Homo sapiens: one gene and its partners. The protein of the gene in region 1 interacts with the protein of each later gene in a biochemical or structural test. Each region holds a gene or a part of one and is shown in the gene's direction. Other genes may lie near its edges.

The links.
Region 2: the proteins of CUL9 (region 1) and UBE2L3 form a complex in vitro, tested with the Homo sapiens proteins (2 studies listed by BioGRID).
Region 3: of the proteins of CUL9 (region 1) and CYCS, one has a biochemical effect on the other in vitro, tested with the Homo sapiens proteins (one study listed by BioGRID).

Annotation. Positions count from the first base shown.
Region 1 is NC_000006.12:43,202,695-43,206,345, forward strand, and holds part of CUL9 (cullin-9), read left to right. Parts: intron 1-21; coding exon 22-127; intron 128-414; coding exon 415-510; intron 511-722; coding exon 723-898; intron 899-1,159; coding exon 1,160-1,293; intron 1,294-1,401; coding exon of another isoform or gene 1,402-1,454; exon of another isoform or gene 1,455-1,659; intron 1,660-1,665; coding exon 1,666-1,845; intron 1,846-2,053; coding exon 2,054-2,163; intron 2,164-2,238; coding exon 2,239-2,421; coding exon of another isoform or gene 2,422-2,568; coding exon 2,569-2,729; intron 2,730-3,312; coding exon 3,313-3,541; intron 3,542-3,626; coding exon 3,627-3,651. UniProt on the Homo sapiens protein: Core component of a Cul9-RING ubiquitin-protein ligase complex composed of CUL9 and RBX1. The CUL9-RBX1 complex mediates ubiquitination and subsequent degradation of BIRC5 and is required to maintain microtubule dynamics and genome integrity.
Region 2 is NC_000022.11:21,621,983-21,624,544, forward strand, and holds the end of UBE2L3 (ubiquitin-conjugating enzyme E2 L3), read left to right. Parts: 3' UTR 1-2,052; downstream 2,053-2,562. UniProt on the Homo sapiens protein: Ubiquitin-conjugating enzyme E2 that specifically acts with HECT-type and RBR family E3 ubiquitin-protein ligases.
Region 3 is NC_000007.14:25,118,022-25,121,717, reverse strand, and holds the end of CYCS (cytochrome c), read left to right. Parts: 3' UTR 1-3,062; downstream 3,063-3,696. UniProt on the Homo sapiens protein: Electron carrier protein. The oxidized form of the cytochrome c heme group can accept an electron from the heme group of the cytochrome c1 subunit of cytochrome reductase.

The DNA of each region.
Region 1 (3,651 bases):
GTTTCCTTTCTTCTTTCCCAGGCAGCTCACTTTGCTGGTGGCCAGTGAGGACTCAAGCTACATGCCAGCCAGGGTGGTGGTGTTTGGGGGTGACAGCACCAGCTGCATCGGCACTGAGCTCAACACGGTGGGGACCCTTGTGCCCACCTTCACCTTGCTCCACATCCTTCTTTTTGTCCCAGTGCCTGTGGGAAGGACCTAGTCCCTGGGGAATGGTGACATCCCTTCCCCTTGGGAAGGTGTTGCCTTGTAAGCAGTGAGAGTGGGATTAGGGATGCAGAGCCACGTCCATCCCTAGGCTCTGCGGGAGAAGTGAAGGGCACACACCATGACCGACTTGGTTACTGTCAACAATTTTTCCAACCTTGTTTCTGGAGGTGACAGTTCTCTCCCTCTTCTCCCCTGCCCTACCAGGTGAATGTGATGCCCTCTGCCAGCCGGGTGATCCTCTTGGAGAACCTGAACCGCTTCTGGCCCATCATCCAGATCCGCATAAAGCGCTGCCAGCAGGTGGTGTTAGGGTGTCAGCCAGGGCTGAGGAGGAGGAGGTGGCACACAAGTTTCTCCTTGATCTGCTTGGGAGATGGCCCAGGACCTGTTGAGTCCCAGAGATGTGGGGATGTCCTGAGCAGTTCTAGGGAGCTCAGGGCAGGAGGCTTGGCTTTGGTAGTACTTAGTGGCTCAAGCGGCTTGGGTGACAGATAAGTCTGTGCATGTTCCAGGGCGGCATTGACACCCGGGTTCGGGGTGTGGAGGTCCTGGGCCCTAAGCCCACATTCTGGCCACTGTTCCGGGAGCAGCTGTGTCGCCGAACATGTCTCTTCTACACAATTCGGGCACAAGCCTGGAGCCGGGACATAGCAGAGGACCACCGGCGCCTCCTCCAGCTCTGTCCCAGGTGGGTGGGGCCTGAGGAGGGAAGATGGGTAAGGGAACAGGACACTGTGAGAAGTAGGAGGGATGCTCCTGTGGGAGTCCGGAAGGGAAAGCTGCAGCCAGGACATGAGGGGGAAGGTGAACGTAGGTGAGAAGTTTGTGTTAATTGGGAAAAGTTGGGTCAGGGACCGAACAGGGGTGATTGGGAGCTGATCTGCACTTGAATGGAGGCCTCTGGGAAATCGGTGCCATTAATCCTCCGCCATGCACTGTTTGTTCCCAGACTGAACAGGGTTTTGCGCCACGAGCAGAATTTTGCTGACCGCTTCCTCCCTGATGATGAGGCCGCCCAGGCACTGGGCAAGACCTGCTGGGAGGCCCTGGTCAGCCCCCTGGTGCAGAACATCACCTCTCCCGGTAACCATGCTGACACCTGGCCCCACTAACCAGTTCCTTGTCCTTATTCCCAGGGATCACCTGAGTTAATGCTCTTGGTTCTTTTGGTTCCTGTCTTTATCCCTGAAGGCCTGTCACCTCAGTGTTCCTCTCTCCTTCCTGCCCCAGGCACTGCTCCCTGAGACTCTGGTATTTGAATCTTTCCCACTACCCCATCCCCACCCTGTTAACATTTCCCCTGACTCCAGCTGAAACAAACCTTGGTGAGGGGAGGACTAGGGCCCCACTACCCCTCAAGCCTTTTTGTACAATTGATCTTTCTCCCTCCTCTGCCCTGAGCTGTCTGTTCTCCCATCTCCCATGGAGACCTGTTCCTGACCTGTCTTCTTTCAGATGCGGAAGGCGTGAGTGCCCTGGGATGGCTGCTGGATCAGTACTTAGAACAGAGAGAGACCTCTCGGAACCCCTTGAGTCGAGCAGCGTCCTTTGCTTCTCGAGTTCGTCGCCTTTGCCACTTGCTGGTGCATGTGGAACCTCCTCCTGGGCCTTCTCCTGAGCCATCCACTCGGCCCTGTAAGTCCCAGCTGTGGCCAGTGGAGCTGACTCTGCGGACAGTGGTGTATCTGGCTCCCTCCTCCCTGGGTCTTACTCTTGCTGCTTTGCTACCGGCCTTTCCAGGCCCCTGAGACCTACTGGCCTTTCCAGGAGATCACTACCCAAGACCGGTGTACTCACCCAGAGGCTGAGATGAAACCCCTTCCTTCTCCCTCTGTCTCTACAGTCAGCAAGAACAGCAAGGGTCGGGACCGGAGCCCGGCGCCTTCGCCAGTGCTTCCAAGCAGCAGCCTGAGGAACATAACCCAGTGCTGGCTGAGCGTGGTGCAGGAGCAGGTGGGCAGAAGCAAGCAGAAGTCTGCAGAGGGGAGGGGCTGCTCCTTTTATGTCATTTCTTGCCTTTCTCCTCAGGTCAGCAGATTCCTGGCTGCAGCTTGGAGGGCCCCAGACTTTGTGCCTCGTTACTGTAAACTCTATGAGCACTTGCAGAGAGCAGGCTCCGAGCTGTTTGGGCCTCGGGCAGCCTTCATGCTGGCTCTGCGCAGTGGCTTCTCTGGCGCCTTGCTGCAGCAGTCCTTCCTCACTGCTGCTCACGTGAGTCCCACCAGCTCCCCACAGGGCTATAAGCTTGTGTTCCAAGTTCATCTCTTTCTGCTCTGCCCTTTCACCTCCTTTCGCTCCCCAGTCTCCTACTCCACTCCCTCATTCATGGTTTGCTCATGCCCTTTCCCCTGCCCCCAGATGAGTGAGCAGTTTGCCAGGTACATTGACCAACAGATCCAGGGTGGCCTGATTGGTGGAGCCCCTGGAGTGGAAATGCTGGGGCAGCTTCAGCGGCACCTGGAACCCATTATGGTCCTTTCTGGTCTGGAACTGGCCACAACTTTTGAGCACTTCTATCAGTGAGTGCAGGTCTGGAGGCATAGGGGATGGGAGGCCTAGATCTAGAGAGTGGAAAGATTTGAGTCTTATAGGGGAGATGAGAAAAGAGGCTGTGTAGAGGAGAGATTAAGATGTGGAGATGGCTGGCCAGGCGCGGTGGCTCACGCATGTAATCCCAGCATTCTGGCAGGCAGATCACCTGAGGTCAGGAGTTCAAGACCAGCCTGACCAACATGGTGAAACCCTTTCTCTACTAAAAATACAAAAATTAGCCAGGTGTGGTGGCGTGGTGGCAGGCACCTGTAATCCCAGCTATTCGGGAGGGTGAGGCAGGTGAATCTCTTGAACCCGGGAGGCAGAGGTTGCAGTGAGCCAAGACCACGTCATTGCACTTCAGCCTGGGTGACAAGAGCAAGACTCCGTCTCAAAAAAAAAAAAAAAAAGTGGAGGTGGTCATGCATTGGTGGAAAGGGAGTGGGAAAGAAGAGGTGAGGTAGGGTATGTGACTCAGGCAGAGGGACAGAGGGACCTACATTCTCGAGGGGGAGGCTGGGCCACGCTGGCACCCACACTGAGGCTTGGCCCGGGCTGTGTGTGCTGCAGGCATTATATGGCGGACCGTCTCCTGAGCTTTGGTTCGAGCTGGCTGGAGGGGGCTGTGCTAGAGCAGATTGGCCTCTGTTTTCCCAACCGCCTCCCACAGCTGATGCTGCAGAGCCTGAGCACCTCTGAGGAGCTGCAGCGCCAGTTCCACCTCTTCCAGCTCCAGCGGCTCGACAAGTTGTTCTTGGAGCAGGAAGATGAGGAGGAAAAGAGACTAGAGGAAGAGGAGGTAAGAGCAGGGAGAATAGGAGAGTGAGAGAAGACTAGACCAAGGAAGGGAGCCCAAGGGCCCTTGAAATCCTTCTGTCCCTCAGGAGGAAGAGGAGGAAGAGGAAGCTG
Region 2 (2,562 bases), on another chromosome or scaffold:
AGGTTTAAAAAAAAGGAAAAAAAACGGTTGTGGTTCCCTTTCTTCCCTACCCTTGCCACTCCCACTTTCTGGCACCGAGTTTATTTTTCACTTACTTACTTCCCCAGACCCCGGGCTCGCCTCCACAAAGGAGAAGAGACTGCCCTGGCGGTCCTGGTGGCTTTTCTTAGCATGTGTGGCACTGTTGCCCAGTGTGGGAGTTGGTTTAAATTCTCCTGACTCCAGTTTATAACATCCTTTTAAAAAATTTAAAAACAAACAGCCACACCCCTCCTCCAGTCCTTCTCCTCAGTTCTTGTGTGAAACTCCAGCTGATGTTACCACAGTAACATCAGTTAATTGGGCAAGCCCTGATGTCAGTGTGTGTAACTGACCTCTGGCCTGGCCTGCACAGAGAAGCCCTATAATCACAGGTCTGTGGTGGCCCCGAAATGGGGGGCCTGCTAGTCAGGAGGATGCTGTGCACACTGTGTGTGATGAATCTCGCCAGAAAGGCTCCTGAGGTCCCAGGTTGGCACTTCTCCCTGCAGCCATTGTAGAAGATCTGCTGGTCCTTGCAGGCAAAGCTACAGCCAGAATGTCCGTTTGAAACTCCTAGCTCATCTGTCACCGAGCTTCATCCGAATGTGCCACGGAGCTTGCTCTCCACTTCCTCCGTGCAGTGGCCCTGCCACAGCCCTCCCTCGGCACACTTTGACCCTTTGTAGGATTGGAATTAGCAGGACTCGGCTATTTAAAGCACCAGTCTGGGGTCGCCTGGGCCCCTGCTGACCCCCTCCTCCAGAGCAGCCAGCCCAGCCCGGGAACAAGACGGACTTCCTCTCCCTTCGGACTCACAGCCTTTGCAGAGTCAAGCTCCACTTGAAGCTCACTCAGTAATATCCTTTCAATGTGTTTTATATTGTTTTGACTGCCTTTTTTTGTAGAAATAAAAATTGACCTTAGAATTTATCGTCAGATAAACTTGTAAAGATTTGAATATTAATGTCTTTTCAAGGCAAATGGGATTGTCCCCGCACTAGTAGAGAATCCATGTCGCTCTGACACCCCAAGGAAGCCGACGATCCAAATGCCGTGTGTCACCAACCCCGCTTCTGCCACTGGCGGCTTCCCTTCTTGGCTCTTGGGGGGGACTAGATCCTGTGGAGAAGATGACTTAAACTTTGCTTTTTGTTTTAATTTTAATTCTATAACTTGAGATCTTTCCGGGGCCTACAGGCGTGTAAGACAGCTTGGTCTGGTCTGTGCAGAAGTGGGGAGTGATGGGCAGGTTCGGCAGCCTAACATTGTTCAGGCGCATGGCCCCTGCGGTGTGTACACGAACTCGGCTTCTTTTGTCCTAGGTACGCCAAGGGCAGGTTTCTGGAGACTCCCTTGTGCCCGGGATGGCAAGGGCACCGGGCTGGCGTTTCCACATCTGTCTTCATTAGCAGAAAAGTGATGATGGATTTTATTTCACTCACACTCCAGTTTGTAATAAAATGCCAAATTCTGTCAGCTATCCAAACAAGCCACCATTTGTTCTTGTTGCTTCTCTGGATCCAGAAATGTTGCCATTCTTGGAAACTGTCCCATTGCTTCGTATTTCTGCCAACGTAGCTCTGCCTGCCTGTCAACCCCTCACTGCACTCTGCTCATCACGGGAGGATACCTGTGTGCCGGCAGCCCCTCAGGGACTCTCAGCCCTGGCACTGGCACCCCAGGGTTGGCCCCGTCAGCAGAGGCTTGGCTTTCGAGCCAGTGGGTGTCTCTCCTTTGGGCCTGGGCGGCTTGCTCCTGCCAGCCATGCCTTCAGGGTAGGCTCTGAGCAAGCTGGCGAACAGCCCTGGCTGCTCCAAAACCAAAAAGCTGGGTCCTCTGGAGGAGGGGCGAGCTGTGGAGCAGCCACCCACTGCTGCCCCAAGCTCACTCAGGAATTCACACCCGCCTGGTTTCTTGAAGTGTGCTGGGTCCTTCCCTCTGCTCCCTACTCCCCACCACGGCAGAGAATAGGCTTTCTAAGATGCTGCGATCCCGTTCTGCTGCCCGTAATAAAAATGCTCTCAGACACTGGTTAGTCGTGTGGGTTTCTTCCTTCCTGGGAGCGGGCAGTGCCAGGGGCCTATGCTCTTGGAGATGGGAGGGCTGGCTGGGGCCCAGGTCCTGGGGCTTCTGATCTCTCTCCCCATTCCCAGCCTCTCCAAAAGAGGTACATAGAAGTGTTCCTGCCTCCCTAGAGGGAAGGAGATGAGGTATAATCAGCAAGAAAGCCGGAGACTTCAGACAGTCGGGGCCTGCAGAGGGCGCTCTTGGGCGTCTCGTTGAGGGGACAGGGACTAAAGTGTGGGTGCATCACTTACATGCGTGGGTCATCCTGGAGCCTCCTGGGAGTGTTAACAATCCATGTTTAGAAGAGGCAAACCTGCGGTCCCAAGAGGTCACAGAATTGATAAGGGTGTGCCTGTGGGTGGAGCTGGGCCATGTCCATGAATGGTGCCAGCCAGAAACACTCTGAGTCCCCAGTACAGCCCACTGCCAGGGTGCTGCGGCAGTGGTGCTAACTCAGCAAGGGCTCAGCCAGAC
Region 3 (3,696 bases), on another chromosome or scaffold:
CAAGCAATCCGTCCACTTGCCTTGGCTCCCCAAAGTGCTGGGATTACAGGCGTGAGCCACCAGGCCCTGCCTGGTTTTCAAATTCAGAAATCTTATTATTTAACCCAGAAGTAATCAGCCCAGTAGTAACTTAGGTTTAATTTTTTTTCAGGTTTAAAATTTTTCTCATTTATTTTTTCTGAGACGGAGTTTCGCCCTTTTCGCCCAGGCTGAGTACAGTGGTGCAATCTCACTGCAACCTCCGCCTTCCAGTTGCAAGTGATTCTCCTGCCTCAGCCTCCTGAGTAGCTGGGATTACAGGCACCCGCCACCACGCCTGGCTAATTTTTGTATTTTTAGTGGAGATGGTGTTTCACCATGTTGGCCAGACTGGTCTTGGACTCCTGACCTCGTGATCCACCCACCTTGGCCTCCCAAAGTTCTAGGATTACAGGTGTGAGCCACCACGTCCGGCCAATTTTTCTCATTTCTATGCCTCCTATATTAAGGTCTGTGTTGGCACAGATGAGTAACTGCCATGTTCTAGGTCAGTTATACCCAAGCACTTCTGGTGGTTTAAAATGTGATTCTGTAACTTTTTTATTTTTATTTTTTTGAGATAATTTCACTCTTGTTGCCCAGGCTGGAGTGCAATGGCGTGATCGCTGCTCACCGCAACCTCCGCCTTCCAGGTTCAAGCGATTCTCCTGACTCAGCCTCTCAAGTAGCTGGGATTACAAGCATGCGCCACCATGCCCAGCTTATTTTGTGTTTTTAGTAGAGACAGGGTTTCTCCATGCTGGACAGGCTGGTCTTGAACTCCCGACGTCAGGTGATCTACCTGCCTCGGCCTCCCAAAGTGCTGGGATTACAGGCGTGAGCCACCACGCCTGGCCAATTATGTAATTTTTTAAAAAGGACATTTCTATCAGGGATATATACCTTCAGAAATAAGGAAATAGGGGAAAAAAAGAGCACTATAAACCACATGTTTTCATTTCTAGTGCTTCGCTGTAAGTGGCTAGGTTGGTAGAATCAAAAACAAGGGCCAGATGTATTTAAGGGGTATTCAGATGCCACCTACATGCTTATTTTGTCTAGAACAGTGCTGTCTAATAGAACTTTCTGTGACGATGGATATTTTGTAGACTTTTGCTGTCCAGTGTGGTAGCCACTAACCACATGTGGCTGTTAAGCCCTTGAAATATAGCTAGTGTGACTAGAAAGTATTTTATTTTAAATTTACATAGGCACAAGTGGCTAGTGGCTACTGTATTGACATTCTGGGTCTAGGACTAGAACCAGTGGTCTGTAACAAAAGTACTTTCTCTTTACTCTATTAAATCTAGAATTAGCCGGGCATGGTCGCTCATGCCTGTAATCCCAGCACTTTGGGAGGCCAAGGCAGGCAGATCACTTGAGGTCAGGCGTTTGAGACCAGCCTGGTCAACATGGCGAAACCCTGTCTCTACAAAAAACATAAAAATTAGCCAGGTGTGGTGGTGGGCACCTGTAATCTCAGCTACTTGGGAGGCTGAGGCACAAGAATCACTTGAACTTGGGAGGTGGAGGTTGCAGTGAGCCAAGATTGTGCCACTGCACTCAAGCCTGGGTGACGAGTGAAACTGTCTCCAAAAAAAAAAAAAAATCTAGAATTCTTGGAAGTACATTATATTGCCCTTCAGAATAGATTCCAGTTCCTGTTGTGCTCACCTTTATAATTTTACCATAAGTTTTACCTATTCGTAAGTTGGCAGTTTTAGATAGATAACATTCTGGTGGTAGCTAGGGATTTACCTTTTGTCATCCTTTTCCTGCACTTCTCTTGAATTCCTTTATAGATGTACAGTTTTGCTTTAACCACTGAAGATTGCTGTAAATTATAAAGGGTGTGATAGAATCCACATGGCTGTCAAGAAGGAGATCTTACCAAGGACAGTTGACTGACTAGTCTCAGATTGTTTCATATCATTTATACTTGGGTAAGAGTAAACTAGATAACTGGGCGTCGTGGTGCACACCTGTAGTCCCAGCCACTCTGAGGCAGGAGGACTGCTTGTGCCCAGAAGTTCGAGGCTGCAGTGTAGCTGTGATTGTGCTACTGCACTCCAGCCTGGGCAACAGATAAAGGAAACTCCATCTCTTTTAAAAAAAAAAAAAGTGGTCTGGGTGCAGTAGGTCATGCCTGCAATCCCAGCACTTTGGGAGGCCAAGGCAGGCAGATCACCTGAGGTCAGGAGCTTGAGACCAGCCTGGCCAACATGGTGAAACCCCATCTCTACCAAAAATATAAAAACTAGCTGGGCGTGGTGGCGGCACCTGTAATTGCAGCTATTTGAGAGGCTGAGGCAGGAGAATCGCTTGAACCTGGGAGATGGGGGTTGCAGTGAGCCAAGACCGCCCCATCGCACTCCAGCCTGGGCAACAATAGTGAAACTCCGTCTCAAAAAGAAAAAAAGTTTCCTTAGAATGGAAAATATTCATTCATGAGCTCTTTTGGCAATCCGTCATCAGTATATTCTGAAAACCAATAAGATGTTGCCAAGTTGGGGGCGAGAGCTATGTAATGCAAGGCATATGCCTGATGAAGTATACAAATACACCTGACCAGAAACTTTGTCTCCCACATAAGTCTCTTCTAGGCACTGTCGGGGTACATACTGAGCTGCTGCTTTGGCTGTATTTTCTGTGCCTCAGAATAACCATTGTCCTGGTGTTCATATCCTTAGAGTTCAGTACAAAATGTTGGATATCCATTTAATAGGTTCCAGGTTATCTTAGTTGGAGTTTGGGGTATTTGAAAACGTCATGCCTTCAGGCTATCATTTCCCTCAGAAAGCTAAGTAAATTTACTGCATTCATTTCTCAAAGAGTAAAAGTGCAGGTTGTATGTGTCTATGAACATTTAAACATGTTAAAATGTTAAATTTAACATTTTAAATTTAAACATTTAAATATGTCTGTAACTTGAACAGTGTAGTTTCAGAAAGGACCACTGGGCTAGTGTAATGCAGAAAATGCTGGGTCTAGGATTAGGAGAAAATTGTGTTTAGTGTGTATCAATAAACAGCCCGTGGACCCAATCTGACCAGATGCCTGTTTTTGTAAAGAGAACTTTATTGGGCTTGGTGCAGTGGCTTATGCCTGTAATCCCAGCACTTTGGGAGGACAGGGCAGATGGATCACAAGGTCAGGAGTTTGAGACCAGCCTGACCAACATGGTGAAAGCCCGTCTCTACTAAAATACAAAAATTACCTAGGGGTGGGGGGCGGTGGGCACCTGAAATCCAGCTACTCGGAGGCTGAGGCAGGAGAATCGCTTCAACCTGAGAGGCAGAGGTTGCAGTGAGCCAAGATCACACCACTGCACTCCAGCTTGGGCAACAGAGCAAGACTCCGTCTCAAGAAAAAAAACTTTATTGGATCACAGTCACATTCGTTAGTGTATTGTTTAGGGCTGCTTTGGGCTACAACATTAGAGGTTAGTGGTTGTGACAAAGCCTAAAATATTTAGTGTGGCATTTTACAGAGTTTCTCAGTTCTGTGTTTAGAGCTTTGCTTTATCAATCTGATTAACACAACGTTGTATTTGTGGAGAATGGGAATAAGCACCTCAAAAGATTCACTGAATGATGTGTGAATGCCTGTAACTGGCAAGCACAGAAAAATTTGTTCATATCTATGTCAAATTCCTTGAAAGTCACATAGTGAAAAGTC